Linked DNA regions of Homo sapiens. The protein of the gene in region 3 interacts with the protein of the main gene of each other region in a biochemical or structural test. Each region holds a gene or a part of one and is shown on either strand. Other genes may lie near its edges.

Region 1 (9,097 bases), on a different chromosome or scaffold from region 3:
TGGTGCAGTGGTGTAATCATGGCTCACTGCAGCCTTGACCTCCCCAGGTTCAGGTGATCCTCCCACCTCAGCCTCCCCAGTAGCTGGGACTACAGGTGCATGCCACCACTCCTGGCTAATTTTTATAATTTTTGTAGAGACGGGGCTTTCGCCATGTTGCCTAGGCTGGTCTCAAACTTCTGGGCTCAAGCCATCTGCCTGCCTTGGCTTCCCAACCAATATATTCTTTTAATAAGAAAAATGGTGACCAGGCGCTGTGGCTGGCTCAAGCCTGTAATCCCAGCACTTTGGGAGGCCAAGGTGGGCAGATCACCTTAGGTCAGGGGTTCAAGATCAGCCTGGCCAACATGAAGAAACCCCGTCTCTACCAAAAATACAAAATTAGCCGGGAATGGTGGCACACGCCTGTAATCCCAGCTACTTGGGAGGCTGAGGCAGGAGAATCACTTGAACCTGGGAGGCGGAGGTTGCAGTGAGCTGAGATCGCGCCATTGCACTCCAGCCTGGTCAACAAGAGCGAAACTCCGTCTCAGAAAAAAAAAGAAAAGAAAAATGGTTTAGGGGTCCCAGAGATCACCAGCTATTCTGCCTTACCCTTTCTCCCCTCAAGAAGATACGGAGGACCTTTTCCTCAGCTCAAATATAGGTTTAGGGTAAAACCTTAGGATAGAAAAGATATGTCACTGGGTGCCGTGGCTCACGCCTGTAATCCCAACACTTTGGGAGGCCGAGGCAGGCAGATCATTCGAGGTCAGGAGTTTGAGACCAGCCTGACTGACATGGTGAAACTCCATCTCTACTAAAAATACAAAAACATTAGCTAGGCGTGGTGGCGCACACCTGTAGTCCCAGCTACTCGGGAGGCTGAGGCAAGAGAATCTCTTGAACCTGGGAAGTGGAGGTTGCAGTGAGCCAAGATCACGCCATTGCATTCCAGCCTGAGCAACAGAGTGAGACTGTCTCCAGAAAACAAAACAAAACAAAAATTTGCCAGGCATGGTGGTGCGTGCCTGTAATCCCAACTACTAGGGAGACTGAGACACAAGAATCGCTTGAACCCGGGATGTGGAGGTTGCAGTGAGCTGTGATCGTGCCACTGCACTCTACCCTGGGCAACAGAGTGAGACTGTGTCTCCAGAAAAAAAAAGGAAAAGAAAAAGAAAAAGAAAAAAAAAAAAAGATATGGGACAGGACTGCAGGGCCTAAAAGGGGAAAGGTCAGTTTGTCAGTATGGGTCAAAGGTGAGAAGGACAAAGTCTGGGCTGGGAAGAGATGCATAAATATTTGCAAATGTTTTGTCCTTCACTGTTTTGGAAGCCATCAACTTTCTGGTTTCCTTGTGATTCTGGGAAAGGGCAGATTAAAAACAGCAACAACAACAATAATAGTAATTCAGGTCATGAAGATACCAAAGCAAATGAGATGTTTGGACTGTTTTTTTCCTCTGACTTGTTTCTCCTCAAAATAGGAGGATCACCCACATCCTTTAAGAGTGAAGATGAGGTGTGCTCAGGGCAACCGAAGTTTCCAAGAGCTAAGACACTTTCTAGCTCTGGCCAGTCTTGGTGTCTCTTTGTCCTGAGCCTTTCTCCACTTCCCAACCTGAGCACTGCTTCCTTCCAGCAGGGCTGCTCTGCTGTCCCCCCATGGTCCAAGCTGTGCTGCTGCTTTGCTGTGTCCTGCTGTCCCTGGTGTCTGCCTTTCCAAGAAATGCTCAGAATGAGACTCTGACCCTCCAGCCATCTTTAACAGAGACTGGGCATCCATCAAACATGCTCTCCATTATTTGGAGAACATGGAGAGCCAGATTCCTCTCCCAGATCCCAGGATCTGCCAAGATCTCTTACACACAGCCCCCTCCCTAGCCCCTCTGCCTGAGTACCTGTCCAACTTAGCTCTGAGGGTGCCCTTGGAGGAGGTGGGCTGCCCAACTGAGGCCCATGTTCTGCAGTTTCAGATGCGAGGAAAGGATACCACTGAAACCCTCATCCGTGAGAGTCAAAAAGTTCAATGGGGAGGAAGGCAATACCAACATCATTGTGACGAATCTAGTAGTCCCTTAGGGAAGTGTGAATAAACCCAGCACCCAGCTGCCCATCCTGGGAAATGTATGGATGGTGGCAAATATACCCACTGGGGTAGCTGGCCTACCAGGTAGCTCAGATGGTGATTGAGTTTGCTGAGAAACCATCTCCCATGATGCTTGGTGTCACAGTTCAAAGTTTTGGGTGTCCACATCACCAAGAACTGCAGGTATGAGTCTTGGGAGCATATTGAAGAATTAGGCAAAAAGTTGAAGAAGCTCTCAAGATCATTTAAATTGTCCATGGACAGTGACAATATAATCTATCAAATGTTCCACAGCTATTCTGAAGTGCTTTGTGAGGAAAATGATCCAGGAATTGATCCCGGCTCATTTCAGCTATTCAATATCACATAAGTAATGAGTCTCCTTTCCCAGGACTGTATTCAAGGATGGCACACAGTAAGTAGTTAGAAATGTTGGAGACCACTTAGGACAGATGAATGCTCTTTATTTCACCTCTTCCCTTAAACACATATGTGACCAGTGTTAGCCTTGCCCCTCTCCACTTAGTAGGTGTCAGCTCCCCTCCTTTTTTTTTTTTAAGACGGAGTCTCACTCTGTCACCCAGGCTGGAGTGCAGTAGTGCGATCTTGGCTTACTGCAACCTCCACCTCCCGGGTTCAAGCAATTCTCCTGCCTCAGCCTCCTGAGTAGCTGGGACTACAGACGCCCACCACCACGCCTGGGTGTATATATATATATATATATATATATATTTTTTTTTTTTTAGTAGAGACAGGGTTTCACCATATTGGCCAGGCTGGTCTCGAACTCCTGACCTTGTGATCCGCCCGCCTTGGCCTCCCAAAGTGCTGGGATTACAGGCGTGAGCCACCATGCTCAGCCGCTAATTTAATTTTTAAAATGAAGAGAAATGAGAGTATCACAAACATCTCATCTTTCCTAATTCTGAATTTCCCTGGCTCCTATCATGAGCTTAGAGTGGGAATGTGGCAGGGACATACAGGAAATGCCAAAGAACAGGACTGTAGGCATAGAGGTTGAGTGTGTGACAAGGGGCACAAGGTTTGAGCAGCCAGTATAAATGGGCAAATATTTGCAGAGATTACATCCTTCACTGATCATAGGGGAAAGCAAATATCTCCTTTCCTCATGGGACACAGAACTAGGCAGAACAGGATCAGGAAGCGATCAAACCTACCAAGGCAGTCTCACTTCTCAATGACTGGACTGTGTGGTAATTTGGGGTCCCTATATATGGGTGGAAATAAAACAGAAGTCCCTGGTGACCTGTAAATGGGGGAGACCAAGTGGGAGCAACTGGGGTGCATTTCCTATTTCCTAGGCCTTTACCTAAAAAGAACAGAAGCTTGGGGCCAGGCGCGGTGGCTCACATCTGGAAGCCTATCACTTTGGGAGGCGGAGGTGGAAGGATCACTTGAGCCCAAAGTTCAGAACTAGGCTGGGCCAGATGGCAAAACCACGTCTCTACAAAAAATTTAAAAATTAGCTGGGCATGGTGTCACGCACCTGTAGTCCCAGCTGCTTGGGAGGCTGAGGCAGGAGGATCCCTCGAGCCCAGGAATTCAAGGCAGCAGTGATTTGTGATCCCATCACTGCACTCTAGTCTGGGCAACAGAGCAAGACCCTGTCTCTAAAAAGAAAGTACAAAAGCTTGGAAGCAGGTGATGTATGAGGTGTCCCCCTAACTGAGTCTTGGGCTCACCATCGCCCTTAGGGAAATGGTTTGTATGTTTCGGATTTCTCCCCTTTCTAGGGTACTCTGCTCCAGACATGCGTGGCCTCAGACTCATCATGATACCAGTTGAGCTGCTACTTTGCTACCTCCTGCTGCACCCTGTGGATGCCACTTCATATGGAAAGCAGACAAATGTCTTGATGCACTTTCCCTTGTCCTTGGAATCCCAGACACCCTCCTCAGACCCCTTGTCCTGCCAATTTCTGCACCCAAAGTCACTGCCTGGTTTCAGCCACATGGCCCCTCTACCCAAGTTCTTGGTAAGCCTGGCTCTAAGGAATGCCCTGGAGGAAGCTGGTTGTCAGGCTGATGTTTGGGCTCTACAGCTACAGCTCTACCGCCAGGGTGGTGTGAATGCTACACAGGTCCTCATCCAGCATCTTCGAGGGCTCCAGAAAGGCAGAAGCACAGAGAGGAACGTGTCAGTGGAAGCCCTGGCCTCTGCTCTGCAGCTGTTAGCCAGGGAGCAGCAAAGCACAGGAAGGGTCGGGCGCTCCCTCCCGACAGAGGACTGTGAGAATGAGAAGGAGCAAGCTGTGCACAATGTAGTCCAGCTGCTGCCAGGAGTGGGAACCTTCTACAACCTGGGCACAGCTTTGTATTATGCTACTCAAAACTGCCTGGGCAAGGCCAGGGAACGAGGCCGAGATGGGGCCATAGATCTGGGATATGACCTTCTGATGACCATGGCTGGGATGTCAGGGGGGCCTATGGGTCTAGCGATCAGTGCTGCACTTAAACCTGCATTAAGGTCTGGGGTTCAGCAGTTGATCCAGTATTACCAAGATCAGAAAGACGCAAACATCTCTCAGCCGGAGACCACCAAGGAGGGTTTGAGGGCCATCTCAGATGTGAGTGACTTGGAAGAAACAACTACTCTGGCTTCTTTCATATCAGAAGTAGTAAGTTCAGCTCCCTACTGGGGGTGGGCCATAATCAAGAGCTATGACTTAGATCCTGGGGCTGGGAGTCTTGAGATATAAAAGAATGTGGTAACCACAGAATTAATAACTGTACTACCCTGACAAGCTATATACATGTCTTCAAAATTTTAATCTGATTTATCCAGGAGGAAGGCTGTACAGTAAAACGTAAGAACGTAAATGTTTGGGTGTTGAAGTCACAGGGTTTGGTTTCGAATCTAGGCTCCACTTGTTAGAGCCTCGGTGATCACTGAATAGTAACTTCTTTCTTGAACTAAGATCAGTTTTGAAGTTTCTAAAGGAGATAGAATGATTTTAACCTCAATGAGTTGCCCTGTAAATTTAAAATGATACAATGAATCTAAAATGCTTATCACAGTACTTTCAATAAATAGCTATTAGCCAGGTGCGGTGGCTCACGCCTGTAATCCCAGCACTGTGAGAGGCTGAGGCGGGATGATCACCTGAGGTCAGGAGTTCAAGATCAGCCTGGGCAACATGGCGAAACCCCGTCTCTACAATAAATACAAAAAATTATCCTGGCGGAGTTATGCACGCTTGTAGTCCCAACTACCTGGGAGGCTGAGGCGGGAGAATCACCTGAGCCTGGGAGGTCGAGGCTGCAGCGAGCCGAGATCGCGCCGCTGCATTCCAGCCTGGGTGACAGAGCGAGACCATGTCTCAAAAAATAAAAATAAAAAAAAATTGTTTTCATTACCTCAGCCCTCCTCTTCCTATCCCAAGGCGTCGAAATTCCGGTCCCACCCCTTCCCATGGAGCCCTTGGCGTCTCCAGGCTCCTCAAGCTAGTTTCGGTTCCGGGGCTCACGCGCGGGTTCTCGAAAATCAGCTGTTTCAGTCTTGGGCTAGTCCACTAATTGGACTCCTCCCCTCGTAGAAAGTGCCTACTTGAACTTCTCCACCAATCGCTGAAGCTGCAGGTGTGGTTTCGGCTCAGCTTGTCCCGCCCTGCGGAGGGGCGGAGTTGCGGCGGCGCCAGTGAGCTCGCAGTCTGGGAAGGGCTTGACTGAATGGCAGCCAGTGTCGGGGTGGCGGCTGGGAATGGGGGCCGCTCCGGACTTCCGCTGCCAACTACAAGGGGGCGGGTCCGAGGGGGGTTAGCCGAAGTTGTAGGCGGGGCGCGAGGTTCTAGTACCCGAGCTCATACTAGGGACGGGAAGTCGCGACCAGAGCCATTGGAGGGCGCGGGGACTGCAACCCTAATCAGGTACGGGCCCTGAGAGGGTGTGCTGGGGTAGGGGTGGGGGTGAGAGTGAGAGTTCCTCCGAGGGAAGGGCGACTGGCCCCAGGGGTTACCCCCTGGAGAGGGTAGCTTCGGTCCCCAGATTGAAATAGGAGCTGTCGCCTGCTCGGTCCTCGATCTTCTTCTGTCCAGCCTATCTCCCTAACCCTAATGCCCCTCTCCCAAAACTGCCCTGCAGCTTCCGAGACCCGGAATCTGGCATTGTTATGTTGGTTCGGTATCTGACGTTTTTCCCTCTGCTCTGCATTATTTTTTATCTTCACCAAAAAACGATGTTCAAAGATAGATAAATCTAAAAACAAAGATAGATAAATCTATTATCCTTGTTTTGTTAAAAAGTATAAGCTACTGAAAGATGAAACGATTGCCTAAGGTCACACACAAAATTCAGTTCATTTCAGAAAAGCTTCTTGAGTGCAAAATATGTGCCTAAGAATGAGAGATAATGAGAAAAAATTGTTTCAGCCCTTAACCTCAGTGTTTGCAATCCATTTGGGGAGACCAGGTTTTTTGTTTTGTTTTCATATTTGAATCTTTGCTGACTTGCTCCTTTAATATCAGACACTTAAATCCTCAAGAATTGGGACCTCATCATTAATTTTTTTTTGGAGATGGAATCTCACTATGTTGCTCAAGCTTGGTCTCAAACTCCTGGGCTCAAGCCATCCTCTCGTCTTGTGGGCCTCACAAAGTGCTGGGATTACAGGCATGAGCCATCATGCCTGGCCACCTGATCATTTTTTTAACTTTTTTTTGGTATCATAAAAGCAATACAGATACATAGTTTTAAAAATCAAGCACTACTAAAAGAGTTAAAATGAAAATAGCCCCTGCCCAATCCCTCCCTTCCCTTGTTCCTGCTGGAGGTAGAAAGGCAGCTGATGTTATTCATGTTAGTAGAAGACTCTCCCACCCCAAGCATTTCTCTTTATTTTGTAATAAAATCATGTGACCTTTTTAGACCACAAATATGCATGAATTCTGTTCTGTTAGGCTCAGGCTGCAACAAGCATAAGTTTCAGTTTCCTAAATAGACACCAGCTGGCAGTGAGCAGGGAACAGTGGGGAGAAAGATGCATGGGACAGCCTGCTTGGTGACAGGCAAAAACCAATTTGTTGTTCTTTTGAGACAGAGTCTTGCTTTGTCACCCAGGCTGGAGTGTAGTGATGTGATCTCTGCTTACTGCAACCCCTGCCTCCTGGGTACAAGCCATTCTCCTGCCTCAGCCTCTTGAGTAGCTGGGATTACAGGCAACAATTTTAAGTGAAGTTTCAGGATCTCACAAAGTTGATAACCTATAATCATATTCAAGATTCACAGGTCATAAACGTGTCATATTCTTGGGATTGAGCCACCCATTGCACAGCATTTAGATGTCTTCTAGAATGGAGCTCCTCCTTCCTATATGGAGGGCAGTTTATATGGTGTACTTACCTGACCACCAAAAAGATTTGGCTCCTAAAAAAGCTTCAGGTGGCCGGGCATGGTGGTTCACCCCTGTAATCCCAGCACTTTGGGAGGCCAAGGTGGGCAGATCACCTGAGGTCAGAAGTTCCAGACCAGCCTGGACAATATGGTGAAACCCCATCTCTACTAAAAATACAAAAATTAGCTGGGCATGGTAGTGGGCGCCTGTAATCCCAGCTAGTCGGGAGGCTGAGGCAGGAGAATCCCTTCAACTCGGGAGGCAGAGTTTGCAGTGAGCCGAGATCGTGTCACTGCACTCCAGCCTGGGTGACAGAGCAAGACTCCATCTCAAAAAAAGAAAAAAAAAAAAAGAAAAAAAAAAGCTTCAGAGCCAGCAGGGATCATGCTGTAATAAATACTTAACATCAACACTGATCTTTAAATGCTTTAGCACAATCAAATATAAATAACAAACACACACATAAATGCAAAATAAATGAATTAGGGAGATAGATGAAATAAGATTGTGGAAATAGTAATGTTTGTTAAAGCTGGATGGTGATCCTTGTACTATTCACTCTACTCTAGTGTGTATTTGAAAATTACCATTAGGCTGGTTATGGTGGCTCATGCCTGTTAATCCCGGCATTTTGGAAGGCTGAGGCAGGCGGATTACTTGAGCTCAGGAGTTTGAGATCTGCCTGGGCAACATGGCAAAATCCCATCTCTACAAAAAATTAGCTGGCATGATGGCACACTCCTGTAGTCCCAGCTCCTTGAGGGGCTGAGGCAGAGAATGGCTTGAACCTGAGAGGTCAAAGCTGCAGTGAGCCAAGATCATGCCACTGCACTCCAGCCTGGGTGACCAAGTGAGACCCTGTCTCAAAAAAAAAAAAAAAAAAAGAAAGAAAATTCCCATTAAAGCACAAAGGCCCACTTATTGAAGCTATTAAAATACAGGTTGGGGCCGGCTGGGCACAGCGGCTCACGCCTGTAATCCCAGCACTTTGGAAGGCCGAGGTAGGCAGATCACGAGTTCAGGAGATCGAGACCATCCTGGCTAACACGGTGAAACCCCATCTCTACTAAAAATACAAAAAAAAAAATCAGCCGGGCATGGTGGCGGGAGCCTATAGTCCCAGCTACTCGGGAGGCTGAGGCAGGAGAATGGCATGAGCCCGGGAGGCGGAGCTTGCAGTGAGCCAAAATCACACCACTGCACTCCAGCCTGGGCAACAGATCGAGACTCCATCTGAAGAAAAAAAAAATACAGGTTGGGACCACAGTGGCTCATGCCTGTAATCCTAGTACTTTGGGAGTCCGAAGTAGGTGGATCACCTGAGGTCAGGAGTTTGAGACCAGCCTGGCCAACATGGCAAAACCCCATCTCTACTAAAAAATATACAAAAATTAGCTGGGCGTGGTGGTGGGTGCCTGTAATCCCAGCTACTCAGGAGGCTGAGGCAGAAGAATCACTTGAACCAGGGGGATGGTGGTTGCAATGAGCCAAGATCATGCCACTTCACTCCGGCCCAGGCAAAAGAGTGAGAGTCCATCTTAAAAAAAAAAAAAAAAAAAAAAAAAAAATACAGATTAGGCATTCCTAATCTGAAAAATTTGGCTCCAAAATGCTCCAGTGAGCATTTCCTTTGAGTGTCATGTGGGTGCTCAAAAAGTTAGATTTTGGACCATTTCAG
Region 2 (7,087 bases), on a different chromosome or scaffold from region 3:
TTATTCAACATGTAGTCAACATAAAAATTATTAAGGCCAGGGGAGGTGGCTCATGCCTATAATCCCCGCACTTTGGGAGGCCAAGATGGGAAGACGGCTTGAGACCAGGAGTTCAAGTCTGAAGTGAGCTATGATTGTGCCACTGCACTCCAGCTGGGGTGACAGAGCAAGACCCTGTCTCTTAAAAAAGAAACAAAACTCAATGAAACATTCTGCTTGTTTTTCATACTATGTCTTCAAAATCTGGTGTGTATAACAGTTGGGGAAATAGATTGACATGCCCAAGTTGTTCCAAACATATTTAAAAGTTTTCTGGTTGAGCGCAGCGGCTCATGCCTATAATCCCAGCACTTTGGGAGGCTGAGGCGGGCAGATCACTTGAGGTCTGGAGTTGGATACCAGTCTGGCTAACATGGCGAAACCCCGTCTCTACTAAAAATACAAAAATTAGCTGGGCATGGTGGCGGGAACCTGTAATCCCAGGTTCTCAGGAGGCTGAAGCAGGAGAATTGCTTGAACCCAGGAGGGTGGAGGTTGCGGTGAGCCGAGATCACACCACTGCACTCCAGCCTGGACGACAGACCAAGACTCGTCTCAAAAAAATAATAATAAAATAAAAATTTTAAAAAAGATCCATAGGAAAGTATAGATCTTGGAAAAGAGAAAGAGCTATAAGATCTGTAGAAAGGGCAGAGTACCTCAGGAAAGGGTGGCTGTCACATTGAGATTCAGGTCAGGGGTTGAGGCGTGGCTGGTTTCAAAGGTGACAGAGGCTTCAGGCTTCAAGGATTTGGGGCTCTATCCTGCAAGCAACAGTGAGCCAAGGAAGGGTTTTGAACAGGGAAAGGACAGTACATGAACAGAGCTGGGAACCAAGGCTGAGAGGTAGGCAGCAGAGCAAGACCTTGAACCCAGGTCTTGCTGGCTCCAAAGCCTGTCCATGACCTTAGACTGCAGCCATTAACAATGAGGGTATGGGGCCAGGTGTGGTGTCTCATGCCTGTAATCCCAGCACTTTGGGAGGCTGAGGCAGGAGGAACACCTGAGGTCAGGAGTTTGGGACCAGCCTGGCTGATGTGGTGAAATGTCGTCTCTACTAAAAATACAAAAATTAGCCAGGCATGGTGGCGGGTCCCTGTGATCCCAGCTATTCGGGAGGCTGAGGCAGGAGAATTGCTTGAACCTGGGAGGCAGAGGTTGCAGTGAGCCAAGATCACGCTACTGCACTCCAGCCTGGGCGACAGAGCGAGACTCCGTCTCAAAAAAAATAAAACAATGAAGGAAAGGTAGGCATACACCATACTGTCTGCCAGCTACCGCAGTCAGCACCCACTCCTACCTAATCCCCAGGAAAGCCTGAGAGGAGGCTGCTATCAACAACCCCCCAATACAGATGACAAAATCAAGGCCTGGAGAAATTAGGTCCTTGACCTGAGATCATCGAGGGTCATTCTGTGCTAGACACTGCTCCTAACACGTTGCATACATTTCTCTTTCAGTCTAAACAAGCACCCTTTAAGGTAGGGACTGTTAAGATCTCCATTATGTTTCATGTTTTTTTTGTTTGTTTTTTGAGACGGAGTCTCGCTGTGTCACCCAGGCTGGAATGCAGTGGTGCGATCTCGGCTCACTGCAACCTCTGCCTCCCAGGTTCAGGCGATTCTCCTGCCTCAGCCTCCTGAGTAGCTGGGACCGCAGGCGTGTGCTAATTTTTGTATTTTTAGTAGAGATGGGGTTTCATCGTGTTGGCCAGGCTGGTCTCGAACTCCTGACCTCAAATGATCCATCTTCCTTGGCCTCCCAAAGTGCTGAGATTGCAGGCATGAGCCACCACGCCCCAATCATGTATATTTTGAGGCTATTAAAAAAAATCTGCATTATTCAAAAGAGGAAACAGCGACCCATTGGAGGTGGCAGAGGTATAGCAGCAGCTAGCATTTATTGTGCACCAACTGAATGCCAAATATTGTCCTGTGGGCTTTGGATGGTTTAATTCACTAACCATCATGGCAGTCCTCTGAGATAGGTGCTCTTCTGCTCTTCTTCCTATAGATGGGGAAACTGAGGCACAGAGGGGGGAAGTCACCTGCCCAGGGTTGCTCAGCTAGTGAGCCAAGGAGCCTGGATTCAAACCAGCATCCAGCTTTCTCTGGAATACCATGGAGGGTGGTGTGGTGGGGATGCTGGGGTGGGTGCGGCTCCATCACCTGGTGGAGCCTCCATCCCTTGCCCTCTGCAGGTGAAGCTGTGTGACTTTGGCTTTGCTCGCATCATCGGCGAGAAGTCGTTCCGCCGCTCAGTGGTGGGCACGCCGGCCTACCTGGCACCCGAGGTGCTGCTCAACCAGGGCTACAACCGCTCGCTGGACATGTGGTCAGTGGGCGTGATCATGTACGTCAGCCTCAGCGGCACCTTCCCTTTCAACGAGGATGAGGACATCAATGACCAGATCCAGAACGCCGCCTTCATGTACCCGGCCAGCCCCTGGAGCCACATCTCAGCTGGAGGTGCCTGGGGCCCGCCTACCCCATGGGCGGGTGGGTTGTGGGGTGGGGCTGGAGAAGTGGGCGGAGCCATGAGAGGGGGGTGGACCCGGAAACAGCCTGGCACCTTGGGGGTGGAGCCCAGTGCTGGGGCGGGCCTACTGGAGGGATGTGGCTACAGGAGGAGCCGTCCTGTAAAAGATGGGCTGGGACTCAGGCCTAGACTAGGTTACTTGGGCTGGAAACCAAGTGCCCCAGAAGCGCTGAGGACACTTGGAACCTTAGGGGGGCTGAGTGAGACTTGGCTTGTCTAGGGTGGGACCAGGAAAGGGACTGGACTTGAGGGTACCAAAGGGCTGCGGTGACCAGGAGAAGGGGCTGAGCCTCCCAAGGCATTGGCTGGGACCTGGAGCCTTTGGGTTTACGACCCCAAAAGGGTCAGCCTTGCAAAAAGGAGGCACCGGTGGGTAGGGTTGAGAAACAAGGGCATGGCTACTTTGCTGTGTACTGGGGCCGTGACTTGGGTGAAGATGGGCCTGAAGCCTGGGGTCGGTTCAGTGACCAAGGGAGCCAGTCTAGGGACGTGGCCGTGGAGGGTTTCCGAAGAGGTCCAGGAACAGGGCTGACCCTGAGTCCTGGAAGCTGGGAGTGGATGGGAGTGGGGAGGAGAAGGGAGCCAGGACTGAGGCAGACATTGCACTCTGCATTCTGGGGCTTTGGTGTTGTGGCTGGGCCTGATGAAGTGGCACCGGGCCTGGTGACTTGAACCTACTTGGGAATGGGTCTGTAACTTTCCCTGCTTGGAAAAGTTAAGTCCTAAGGCCTGGAGCTTTGAGGCTGGGTGTGGGATGGCATGTTTAGAGGGCCAGAGGCAGGGCTAAGATACTGGGGTGTGTCAGAAGCCAGGAGAACAAGGGACCTGTGTTGGAGCCAGGGAGCTCAGGAAGACAGATGGAGTATGGGAAGGGGGGGGATCATTCATTCATTTATTTATAACCATTTATTCAACAAGTACATTCATGTATTTGTAACCATTGATTCAACATGTTGAGTGCCCACGATGTGCCAGGCATTGACTGTTCCAGCTCTGGGAATACTGTGATGACTTGGACAGAAGGGGTCAGGTGCAGGGTAGCTCATTGAGTGGTCCGCGAAGGGTGGAAAGGGGAAGGGTCCTCTCTGGAGGGTGCGGCTTCATGGAGCAGGTGGAGCAGGGTGACACGGAGGTTGCTCGGTGCAGGACAAGACAAGGTCTTGGTGGTGGTCTAAGAGCATGGGCCCTAAGCAGTGAGAATGTGGATTGACTTGAGTCCTGGAGTAATATTGGGGGTGCTCAACACTGGCTTTTTTTTTTTTTTTGAGGTGGGGTCTCGCTCTTTCACCCACGCTGGAGTGCAGTGGCGTGATCTCGGCTCACTGCAACCTCCACCTCTTGGGTTCAAGGGATTCTCCTGCCTCAGCCTCCCGAGTAACTGGGATTACAGGCACACAGCACCATGCCTGGCTCATGTTTTATATTTTTAGTAGAGACAGGGTTTCGCCATGTTAGCCAGGCTGGTCTTGAACTCCTGACCTCAAGTTATTTGCCCGCTTCAGCCTCCCAAAGTGCTGGGATTGCAGGCATAAGCCATCACACCCCGCCAGCATTGTCTTTTGAGACCCACTCAGAAGTCCCTCAGTAAAAGTGCATCGAGTGTGCACAAGTGAATTTAAGTGTGGTTGCACCTGTGTGAGGATCACAGAATCCTGTGGGTGTTGACGGGAGCAGGGTGCCTGTGTGCACCAGGCCTCTCCTCGGATGGGTTCATACAGTGAAGCCTTGTCCTTCATGGCTTCCCATCAAGGAGAGAGCCTCGGATGAGTGCTGGCTTGTCTTGAAGCTTGACATTCGCTAGTCCTCTTTTTCACAATGAACAGGCCTATCTCTGAGCCTTCTGCAGGCAATGGTGACTAACTACCATCTGATGACATTTTGTTTTGTTTTGTTTTGTTTTGAGACGGAGTTTCGCTTTTGTCACCCGGGCTGGAGTGCAGTGGCACGATCTTGGCTCACTGCAACCTCTGCCTCCTGAGTTCAAGCGATTCTGCCTCAGCCTCCTGAGTAGCTGGGACTACAGGCATGCGCTACCATGCCCAGCTAATTTTTTGTATTTTTAGTAGAGACGGGGTTTCCGTGTTGGCCAGGCTTGTCTCGAACTCCTGACCTCGGGTGATCCACCCGCCTCGGCCTCCCAAAGTGTTGGGATTACAGGCATGAGCCACCGCGCCCAGCCTGATGACATAGATGCTCCCTGATTTGCACTGGGGTTAGATAAACCTGATAAACCCATTGCCCATTGTAAATTGAAAATATCATAAGTTGGTCAGGCGCAGTGGCTGAAGCCCATAATCCCAGCACCTTGGGAGGCCAAGGTAGGCAGATTGCTTGAGCCCAGGAGTTCAAGACCAGCCTGGGCAATGTATCTCTACAAAAAATACAAAAATTAGCCGGCCATAGTGACAGGTGCTTGTAGTCCCAGCTGGCTGCTCAGGAGGCTAAGGCAGGAGAATCAATTAAGCTGGGGAGGTGGAGGCTTCAGTGAGCATTGATCACGCCACTGCACTTCAGCTTGGGTAACAATGAGACCCTGTCTCAAAAAAAAAAAAGGAAGTATTGTAGGTTGAAAATCCATTTAGGCCGGGCGCAGTGGCTCATGCCTGTAATCCCAACAATTTGGGAGGCCAAGGCAGGCGGATTGCTTGAGGTCAGGAGTTAGAGACCAGCCTGGCCAATATGGTGAAACCCCATCTCTACTAAAAATACAAAAAGTTAGCAGGACATGGTGACACACACCTGTATTCCTAGCTACTTGGGAGGCTGAGGCAGGAGAATCACATGAACCCGGGAGGCGGAGGTTGCAGTGAGCCAAGATCGTGCCATTGCACTCCAGCCTGGGCGACAGAGCGAGACTCTGTCTCAATAAATAAATAAGTAAAAATAAAAAGAATAGTACAGGTGTAATTGTATGTACCTGTATATGACAAAAAGAAAAAAAAAGGTGACATAGGGGAATGGGGAAATTGAAGTAGAGAACAGGTGAAGAGAGGGAGCTGGTGTGAACATGCATGGGCAGGAGGAGACAAATTTGTAATGTAATGAGGAAATGGGTGGGTGAGTGATTGGCACAGGTGAGGCTTCTGAGCCACCTGAGCTGGTGCAGAAGGAAGGTGTTGATGGCAGGCAGGTAGGCTAGGGGGTGCCTATTGGAGGAGGAGTGACCCTTGACCTGTAGGGCTTGACCTGTTTCTCTTTCCTGTGCAGCCATTGACCTCATCAACAACCTGCTGCAGGTGAAGATGCGCAAACGCTACAGCGTGGACAAATCTCTCAGCCACCCCTGGTTACAGGTGATGCAGGGGGCAGGGCTGGCCCATTGGCTGGATTGGAGGAAGGGGTGGGAGTAGATCGCTTATTGGCTAGGCAGGTTGTGAAGGATGTAGGTTTCCTTGGGTCTGGAATGTGGCTAGGCCTCCCATTGGCTGGGTGCAGGAAGAGGGGGTGGAGCTAAATGTCTACTGGCTGGGTGGGTTGCAGAGGGTATGGCTTCACCTTCATTGGTACCCAGCTCTCAGTGGCAAACCAGAGGATATCCAGGCACTGCTCCAATGCAGACCCCAAGCTAACCCCAGTTCTCTCGGGCCCAGGAGTACCAGACGTGGCTGGACCTCCGAGAGCTGGAGGGGAAGATGGGAGAGCGATACATCACGCATGAGAGTGACGACGCGCGCTGGGAGCAGTTTGCAGCAGAGCATCCGCTGCCTGGGTCTGGGCTGCCCACGGACAGGGATCTCGGTGGGGCCTGTCCACCACAGGACCACGACATGCAGGGGCTGGCGGAGCGCATCAGTGTTCTCTGAGGTCCTGTGCCCTCGTCCAGCTGCTGCCCTCCACAGCGGTTCTTCACAGGATCCCAGCAATGAACTGTTCTAGGGAAAGTGGCTTCCTGCCCAAACTGGATGGGACACGTGGGGAGTGGGGTGGGGGGAGCTATTTCCAAGGCCCCTCCCTGTTTCCCCAGCAATTAAAACGGACTCATCTCTGGCCCCATGGCCTTGATCTCAGCACACGGCACTCTCGAATCATTACTCTGTTGTACCAACATGGAGTTCATCTGGAAGGAGGACTGCCTGAAAAGAGGAAGGATGGAAGGGGTGGGGAGAGAGGACTGATGGGAGAGGAGTCTTGGAAGGAGGACGAGCTGGGGTAGAAAATATACAGGAAGAGTGCCAGGAGAGAAGATGAGAAGGGAGAGGGAGGAGTAATGGAGGAGGAGTTGGAAACTGGGGAGAGATGGAAGGAATGTGACTGGAGGGTAGAGAACTTGGAGAAAAAGTAATCTCATGGTTTGTGATGACTGATTTTTTATTTGGTGGTGGTGTTACTACTAATCACAACTATTAATTCAGGCTGGGTGTGGTGGCTCATGCCTATAATCCCAGCAATTTGGGAGGCCGAGGCAGGCAGATCCCTTAGATCTCAGGAGTTTGAGAGCAGCCTGGCCAACGTGGTGAAACTCCCTTTCTACAAAAAGTTCAAAAATTAGCCAAGTGTGGTGGCTTGCACC
Region 3 (8,788 bases):
TAATAAGTTTTGAATCAGAGGTCTTAATGCATAGTAAAAGATTGCCTGGCTTTAATCCTAAACCATGTAAGGGTAGATACTGTGATGTGGAAGCCAATGTTCTCGGGATGAATGAACAGAAGTCCCTCAACATTTTTAGGGATCATCTTTCTGGCATTTGCAGCTGTTTTCTAGGGTAAGCTACTTTCCAGAAAACCAAGTGATAACGTGTTCAGACTTTCCTAAATAAATTTCCTAAGGGCCTACCCTCAGTGTTAAAAGAAAAGACCAAATGTTTGAAATATCTCCCGAGGAAGAATGAAACAGAATGTTAGGAATGGCGAACAGACAGGTGTGGCACATGCAGTAGCCAGCAGCATCAGTGATGGACAGGAACACAGACGTCATCCTTAGCCACGGTGCGCAGCTAGCACGGCTGCACTTAGGCTCACAGGAGGAAGACGGGTGGCCACTGTTTTGGTCTGACTCATCTCATCCAATGCAAGTCCGGTGACAGGCTTTTTCATGATTTTACACATGGAAAAGAATGTAGGAAACGTTTGTCTCAACTCTTTTAATTTCTTTTTTTAAAGAGTCTCACGCTGTCACCAGGCTGGAGTGCAGTGGCGTGATCTCGGCTCACTGCAACCTCCACCTCCTGTTTTCAAGCGATTCTCCTGCCTCAGCCTCCTGAGTAGCTAAGACAACAGGCGCGCGCCACCACACCCGGCTAATTTTTGTATTTTTAGTAGAGATGGGGTTTCACCACGTTGGCCAGGCTGGTCTCGATCTCTTGACCTCATGATCTGCCTGCCTCAGCCTCCCAAAGTGCTGGGATTACAGGTGTGAGCCACCGTGCCCGGGCCTGTAATTTCATTTTTAAATAGTTAAGAGCTTGCCCGTATTTTTAGGACCTATGATCTGAAGATGTTTTTTCTTTCCCTAAACAGGGAAACGTCCTCTCTGTAGTTACTGAGAGGAAGGTGAGGACCTCAGGCTCCCAGTGTAACTCCTGCTGAAAAACCTTATACTTGACACAGTTCATTTCTGGTCATACAAAGTCCTGCTGTAGTTCTTCACTTGTTTTACTTTCGCTTTCATCTTCATTAGAATAATTTCCTGAATCTTGGCTAGTTTGGGAACTGTATTTTTTATGATCTTCATCAGTTTGATTAGTTTCTTCTACTGTAGCAATTGTGCTTATATTTTCAATTATGAAACATTTTTCGATTTGTTCCTCAGAAGTTGAAAGCAGAAGATTCTTCAATGGCTGTTCAGAGAAATACTAATTTAAAAAAAGGGAAAGAGTAGAAATCAATTATTTAAAATAATAAAAATTCCTTTTCTAGTTGTAATAGCTTTAGTTTCTTACATCCATTACTGAGAAAACCTATCTTCTGGCATGCATATTAAAAAGTCGCCTAAGAACATACTAATTGCCTTATAATGTTTAAAAGCATCATTAGTGAGGTCACTCATATCTTAGTACCTTCTGTGGTGAGTCTTTGAAGAGTACCTAAGAAAGGTACACTGTGCCATCGGGGTAGGCGGGGAAGAACACGGGAAAGGACAGGAGCGGGCGGACTCTGGGATCATGACTTTTTTTTTTTGAAATAATAAAAATGTTTGTATCCAACACATATATATCCAGAAGAAGCACAATTGAGAAATTATTGGCTATTGTAACTAGTTTTTAAGTCTATTTTAAATAATAGCTATGAATATTACAGTACACAGGAATGACATTTAAAAACTCAGGGGTATAATAGTAAAATTGTTAATATTTACGGAGCATTTTTAGAGTGGTAAGGTTCTTATGGTTTAACTCCTTTGCTCCTAACACCTCTATGGGGTGGTTTACAGCCAAGGGTACTTGCTTACCTGCCCTTAGTGACTTGCTCAAATTCACAAAACCCACCCTAGATGAGCACATGGTTTCCCAGGAACAGATTCTATGTTTAGGCCTTCACCATTCAGTGCTTTCATTTAATATGCTAGCTTCATAGAAGTGCCAAACAAAAAACTGTGATGTGTGTCATAAAAAAAGTCTCATGTTTTTAGTTATTTCATTTTGTATGATTTCATCCATAGAATATACTTTCTACGCTGATAGAATATTTTAGTCTTCTGGATATATACAGATGCTCCTAACTTACAATGGAATTACGTTCTGACAAACGCATCACAAATTGAAACAGCGTAAGTTTGGGACTGTCTGTACTGAGAAGAATCACATTACAGACTTTATTTACTTATTTAGAGACAGAGTCTTGCTCTGTCACCCAGGCTGGAGTGCAGTGGCATGACCTCGGCTCACTGCAACCTCCACCTCCCAGGTTCAAGCGATCCCCCTGCCTCAGCCTCCCGAGTAGCTGGGATTACAGGCATGTGCCACCACGCCCGGCTAATTTTATATTTTTAGTAGAGACAGGGTTTCTCCATGTTGACCAGGCTGGTCTCGAACTCCTGACCTCAAGTGACCCACCCGCCTCAGCCTCCCAAAGTGCTGGGATTACAGGCGTGAGCCACCACGCTTGGCCAAGAATCACAGGCTTTAAACGGTAAAACAAATGCCACAGTGAATCTAGGAATTGCCAGAAAAATATGAAATTAAGGACAATCATTACTATCTCATGCTATGTTATTACATGAAATTACTGTTTTTAAAGTTAATTGACTAAAGCTTTGAAGAAGATACCCAAATCAGTCTCTATTATTTTCTGGATATCAAGAAAACCTACATATATCCTGTTGAAATCAAACACATTTTCTGTTCATTACCTAGCTGTTGACAAAAAAATAAAAAAAGTAACATACCTCATCTATACTGGAAGAAGGTTTAAGTGATGGAAAGAAGACATAATTGATGCATCTCAAGAAGACTTTCGCAGCATAAATGACAAACGGGAGAGCAAATAATGCAATACAAATTCCAACTATAAGCCAAATTTTAGAGGTATTTCCTAAAAAGATATACGTGATATTTAGCATATATTTTGACATACAAATGCCTTAACAGTGCTGACAGCTGTGTGAAAGACTAGCCATATGAAAGGAAATATAAAATCTATTAAATAATACTCTTAAAAATATTTCTGGCAGCACTGAGTCCACAGCAACCATAGGCAATGACATTTACATTTAAAGATTGGCGTGGGAACTGAAGTAAGAGATCCTCAGGGAGAAATACAATATTGACATACAGGCCAAACATGCAAGTATCCTTCAGCACTTTTACACCATACAACTAGCAAAATTTAATAGATATTCTGTGACTAAGCCTCTACCGGTCAACACTAGAAACTGTAAAATAGAAAATGAGACTAAACCAATTCCCACATTAAAAAACTCACAATTGAACTAAGTGATTTCTACATGATAATTATGTTAAGGATTATATTCTAAAAATTTAAAATAGTTTTATTAAATGTTAAAGAGAAATACATTAAGGAAATTAATTATAGGGATACTGGATGAAATATAAAGCATCCAACAACACCGACTTGAGAGTTAAGCGTTACAAATATTTTCTAAAAAGTCTACTTTTGATTCATGTAGTTCATGAAGAAAACATTCTTTCTATATATTTTTTGCAGTAAAGAGAAAATGTTTTACAATTTTCAATGTACAGTATAGAATTACTTTTATTATGTCTAGCTACATTTTTAAAAAAGACAATAAAAGATTCTGACCTGGTTTTGTTTTCTCACATACAGCGTCACTAAAAACACTGCTTTTATTCAGCTTTTCATCCATGGTGTGTGCTCTGGCTTTCACACAATATACAGTCAGTGGTTTCAAATTAGGAACTGTAACATCAGTTTTTTTCTCGATAATTTTTCTCTAGAAAATATAATTAAATCACTGATAAAATTTAGTCACCTCAAGAAATCAGGGAATATGTGCTTTCTCAATTTTTTATGTTCAGTCTAACATTGGCCTCTCCCACGTAGTTGGTATGTATTTTTTGTTTTGTTTTGTTTTGTTTTGTTTTTTTTGTGAGACAGTCTCGCTCTGTCACCCAGGCTAGAGTGCAGTGGTGCAATCTGGGCTCACTGCAATCTCTGCCTCCTGGGTTCAAGCGATTCTCCTGCCTCACCCTCCTGAGTAGTTGGGATTACAGATGCAGATGCCACCACGCCTAATTTTTTTTTCTTTTTGGTAGAGATGGGGTTTCACCATGTTGTTCAGGCTGGTCTTGAACTCCTGGCCTCAAGTGATCCACCCACCTTGGCCTCCCAAAGTGCTGGGATTACAGAGTATATGTGTGAGAAATATAAATTTGTTTTAGATACACCACTATAACCAAATCAGAAAGTTAAAAATGCTGCTGCCAAAAAAGCATATGATCTATTCCTAAGAGAATTCTAATTGATTTACAAGTACATGCCAAGTCTGGGGTAATTGCCATTGTATTACCTCTGATTAGTGACAGAATGGTTAAGAGTAGGGGTTTTGGCCTCAAACTGCCTTATTAAGAGTATCACTTACAGCTGTGTGGTCTTGCAAGCATTATTTAATTTCTCTCTACCTGATTCCCTGATCTATAAAATCGGGACAGTTATTGCTGCTATCTGTATCAGTCAGCTATCGCCAGAATAATGTCTAACAAGCCGGTGGGTCACACCTGTAATCCCAGCACTTTGGGAGGCCAAGCAGGAGGATCACTGGAGCCCAGGAGTTCAAGACGAGCCTGGGCAACATAGCTAGACTCTGTCTGTACAAGAAATTTCAAAAAAATTGGCCAGGCATGGTGGTGTGAGCCTGTAGTCTCTGTTACTTGGGAGGCTGAGGAAATCCCTATTTCCAAAACAACCACCACCACCACCACCAAAAAAGCCTGGGCAACGTGGTGAAACTCCATCTTTAGCAAAAATACAAAAAATTAGCTAGGCATGGTGGCATGTGCCTGTAGTCCCAGCTACTTGGGAAGCTGAGGTGGGAGGATCACTTAAGCCCAGGAAGTCGAGGCTGCAGTGAGCTGACATCACATGAGTGCACTCCAGCCTGGGAAAAAGAATGAGAACCTGTCTCAAAAAAAAAAAAAATAAAATAAAATAAAATAAAAAAATATAGATAACAAAACTGCCTTAACGTTCAGTGGCTCACAAAACGATTATGTAGTTTCTCACTCACAAGTCTACAGACTGGCTGGGCAGCTCCCACGGAGGCTGTGCATGGGGTTTAGGTCAGCTCCAGCAGCCTCTAATCCTCCTTGGACCAGAGACTATGTGGAATACATTTTATTCCTGGCAAATAGGAGCAGTGCAAGAGCCAAGCCAAACCCTGCAAGCACACTTAAGGCCTCTGTTCTCAGCACATCTACTTGGGCTCCAGCATCTACGGTCTGGTGGTGCAGGGAAGAAGTCACCGTCCCAAGTATTTGCCAAACAGCAATGTAACCAATCACATAATCCGGCAGGGTTGTTTTGAAGAATGACTGAGACAATTCATGTACAATACTTAGCATAGTACCTTACATATAAGTATTCAATAAGAGTTTCTATAGTAACAATTATTGATATATTATCCAGTATAGGTTAAGATGGCAACTACAATTTATTGAATCTCTACTACTTGTCCAGCAATGTGCTAGGTATTTTCATATTTGTTACTTCCTTTTAAACCTTATAAACATCCTTTTGAAAAATTTAGTTGTTATGATTACCACCACTTCAGAGAAGAGGAAGCAAAGTCTCCAAGAGGTAAAGCACCCTGCGTACGTAAGGTTACACAGTTTAGCAGTGAGATAGAAATTTAGGTTTGTCTGATCTACAGACATCTGAAAACCGACCATAATTCTCAATGGGCTACATTAAGCTATGGTTACAGGGTTGTCAGACAATTAAAAAGGGAAGCAGCCAAATCAATGGAATTTGCTTAGATTTCCAATAGAAAATGAGGTGAAGTTAAAGAATTTACCAGCCTGACTGGACAGGAGTTTTAAAGGTCGATTCTTGACTACAAGTCCACGAGGGGGAAGTGATCTGGGAAACACGTATATTATCTGACGGTATATATTATCTTTGTCAGTGGTATCTGAATTTTAGGGTTTAGACCAGTGTTTGTCAACCCTTTTTTCATTACCTCCCCAACTAAACAACTTTTTGGGCAATTTTTTCCTAATCCTTCCCCCATCATAAAATTAAATACTAAGGAATAAGATTTTGTTGGGCAAAGCTGAACTTTGGAAGAATGCTTTCCAATGGTTTTGGAGGAAAACAAACAACTGTACTACATAAATTCTTTTGTCCCATAAGAACCAATTTTTGTCCCCTTGGAGGAGCCACCAGGGGACATTTGACAATATCTGAAGATGTTTTTGGTTGTCACAACTAGGAAGGAACACTACTGGCATCTAGTAGGCAGAAACCAGAATGTTGCCAAGCATCCTGCACTGCACTGGACAGCCCCCTCCCAAGGAACTATCCAGCCCAAACGTCAATAGTGCTGAGAATCCCAGGTTTAGATGAATACATGGGAATCATGTTAAAAATGCAAATTCCTGAGTTCCATCCCCAGAGATAATGATTCAGTAACAATAGGCTCAGGAATCTGTATTTTAAAAGCAAACTGGGGCCCAGATGCAGCTCACCCATAACTCTACAGTGCAAAACATGAAAAATGCTCATAATCTTCATTTTGTTAATATCTGAGTTAATCACATTTTTTTTTTTTAAAGACAAGCTGTCAGTCACTCTGTCACCCAGGCTGGAGTGCAGTGGCACGATCATGGCTCACTGCAGCCTTGACCTCCCAGGTTCAAGTGACCCTCCCACCCCAAGTAGCTGGGAATATAGGTGCACGCCACCACACCAGGCTAATTTTTTAAAATTTTTATTGAGACAGGGTCTCCCTATGTTGCCCAGGCTGGTCTCAAACCCTTAGGCTCAAGTGATCCTCTCGCCTTGGCCTCCTGAAGTGCTGGGATTACAGGCCACTGCATCCAGCCCACATAAAGTTTAAAAATTTCCCCCAAATTTTACATTCAAGCTTTATTTACCCAAATCATAATTATAACTCTAAGTTACAAAATTATACTATACAGTCTTTTTACCTCAGCATTTGAAGTGTTTTCCCAAAAAATAATTTCATAAATCAGTGGATAATCCTGGATCACAGGCGTGTTTCCAGACTGTTTTGGAGCACCGATATAGATATGGAATGAATCACTAAGGGATCTAATGTTAAAGACTGGAGGAAGTAGGAAAGCTAGAAAAAATTTGTAAAGAAATAATGTTCAATTAGAAAAACAATTTTAAAAACTTGCACCAGAGAATTACAATCTCCAGTAAAAACTACTGCCTTACCTTGTATTTCAGTATCAAACTTTATCTCTTCAGACCAAAAAGATGTGTTATTTCCATCAGATGCTTGTACGCGGAGAAGGTAAATTCCTTTTTGGAAAACGTTTTGAGGAAAGACACACTGGGTAGTTTTGACATTTTCACAGTCAGGTATTTGTTTCCATTTATACAAATGGTTTCCAGGATTCCTTTTTAAAAAGGCGCTTTTAAGACAAATATTTTTTAAATTCATTAGATATTTATTAAGTATTTACAATTGCCAGACACTATGTTAGGGGCTAAGGTTACAGAAATAAATAGTATCCACACTCAGGAAACTCACAAACAATGGAAGAGATATGCATCTAACATAAAAGAAAACCAAAGACTGTTCCAGACTGTGGTCATGTTGTGCTCTGCTGGAGGTGGCTCATATCAATATGCAAGAACATCTGTTAGTTAGAATTTCCAGGAATGCTGCAAGCTGGTTTATTTTTTTTGGCTTTTTTTTTGAGACCGAGTCTCGCTCTGTCACCCAGGCTGGAGTGGAGTGGTAGGATCTTGGCTCACTGCAACCTCTGCCTCCTGGGTTCAAGCAATTCTCCTGCCTCTGTCCCCCTGAGTAGCTGGGATTACAGGTGCACGCCACCAGGCCTGCCTAATTTTTGTATTTTTAGTAGAGATGGGGTTTCGTCATGTTGGCCAGGCTGGTCTTGAACTCCTGACCTCAGGTGATCCACCTACCTCGGCCTCCTAAAATACAAACTGGTTTTTAAAGAAAAACCATTACTAAAAATTAAGTTATATAAATTTGCAAATAAAAAATTGTTTTAAAGACAGAGGTAATAAATAAATTCATCTTGTCCTAATTATTTTACTACATTTTATTTTCTAAGCTCTTGGGGCTATCTTTATCTATTGTAGCTATATGATAGTGGTGTGCTACTGTGCATATGTTCCCAACTCCATATTCAGGGACATCAGGCTGGTGGCTTGAAAGTGGCCATGGTGGGAATATTTATATCATAAAAATCAGCAAACACTACAAAATAGGACTTTTTCTTTCTGGAAAGCCAGCTGCTAAACATGCGCCAGCATACCAATGGACACTGATTAAGTGCTAAAATAGAGACACACTGCGGGGTTATAAGAGCAAGTATAAGTACGAGACTAAAGAGGTTAAGTAACTTGCCCAGAAACCAACAGCTAAAAGCATCTCAGTTCAAGCCCAGAACTCTAATAGCCTCCTGACTGGTTTCCTTATCTCTCTTTAGTGTCTCCTTAGTCCACTCTCCCACATACCATGTCGCCGCATGCACCTTCCTCAAATCCAGAGCTCAGGTTAACTATCACCCCAACACAAAATCCCCAAAAGCCTACAGGACAGCCTGAGGTTGACCCTAATCTTGTCCCATTCTACTTATTCAGCTTTCTTCCCATTGCCACCTGGTGTCCAAATGTTCTGCTACTCTAGAAGGACATCCTCCCCACTGGAGAAGGCAAAATTCTGAGATGGCCCCCAA

What was found.
Region 1: the proteins of IFNAR1 (region 3) and STAT2 form a complex in vitro, tested with the Homo sapiens proteins (2 studies listed by BioGRID).
Region 2: of the proteins of IFNAR1 (region 3) and PRKD2, one has a biochemical effect on the other in vitro, tested with the Homo sapiens proteins (one study listed by BioGRID).

Annotation. Positions count from the first base shown.
Region 1 is NC_000012.12:56,356,917-56,366,013, reverse strand, and holds the start of STAT2 (signal transducer and activator of transcription 2), read left to right. Parts: upstream 1-5,906; 5' UTR 5,907-5,956; intron 5,957-9,097. Other genes in the region: APOF (apolipoprotein F preproprotein), read left to right, coding at 3,269-3,284, 3,825-4,789. UniProt on the Homo sapiens protein: Signal transducer and activator of transcription that mediates signaling by type I interferons (IFN-alpha and IFN-beta).
Region 2 is NC_000019.10:46,673,816-46,680,902, reverse strand, and holds the end of PRKD2 (serine/threonine-protein kinase D2), read left to right. Parts: intron 1-2,239; coding exon 2,240-2,507; intron 2,508-3,446; exon of another isoform or gene 3,447-3,763; intron 3,764-5,784; coding exon 5,785-5,870; intron 5,871-6,167; coding exon 6,168-6,380; 3' UTR 6,381-6,587; downstream 6,588-7,087.
Region 3 is NC_000021.9:33,347,792-33,356,579, reverse strand, and holds part of IFNAR1 (interferon alpha/beta receptor 1 isoform 2 precursor), read right to left. Parts: intron 7,490-8,788; coding exon 7,290-7,489; intron 7,192-7,289; coding exon 7,037-7,191; intron 3,823-7,036; coding exon 3,672-3,822; intron 2,943-3,671; coding exon 2,797-2,942; intron 1,265-2,796; coding exon 1,031-1,264; 3' UTR 1-1,030. UniProt on the Homo sapiens protein: Together with IFNAR2, forms the heterodimeric receptor for type I interferons (including interferons alpha, beta, epsilon, omega and kappa).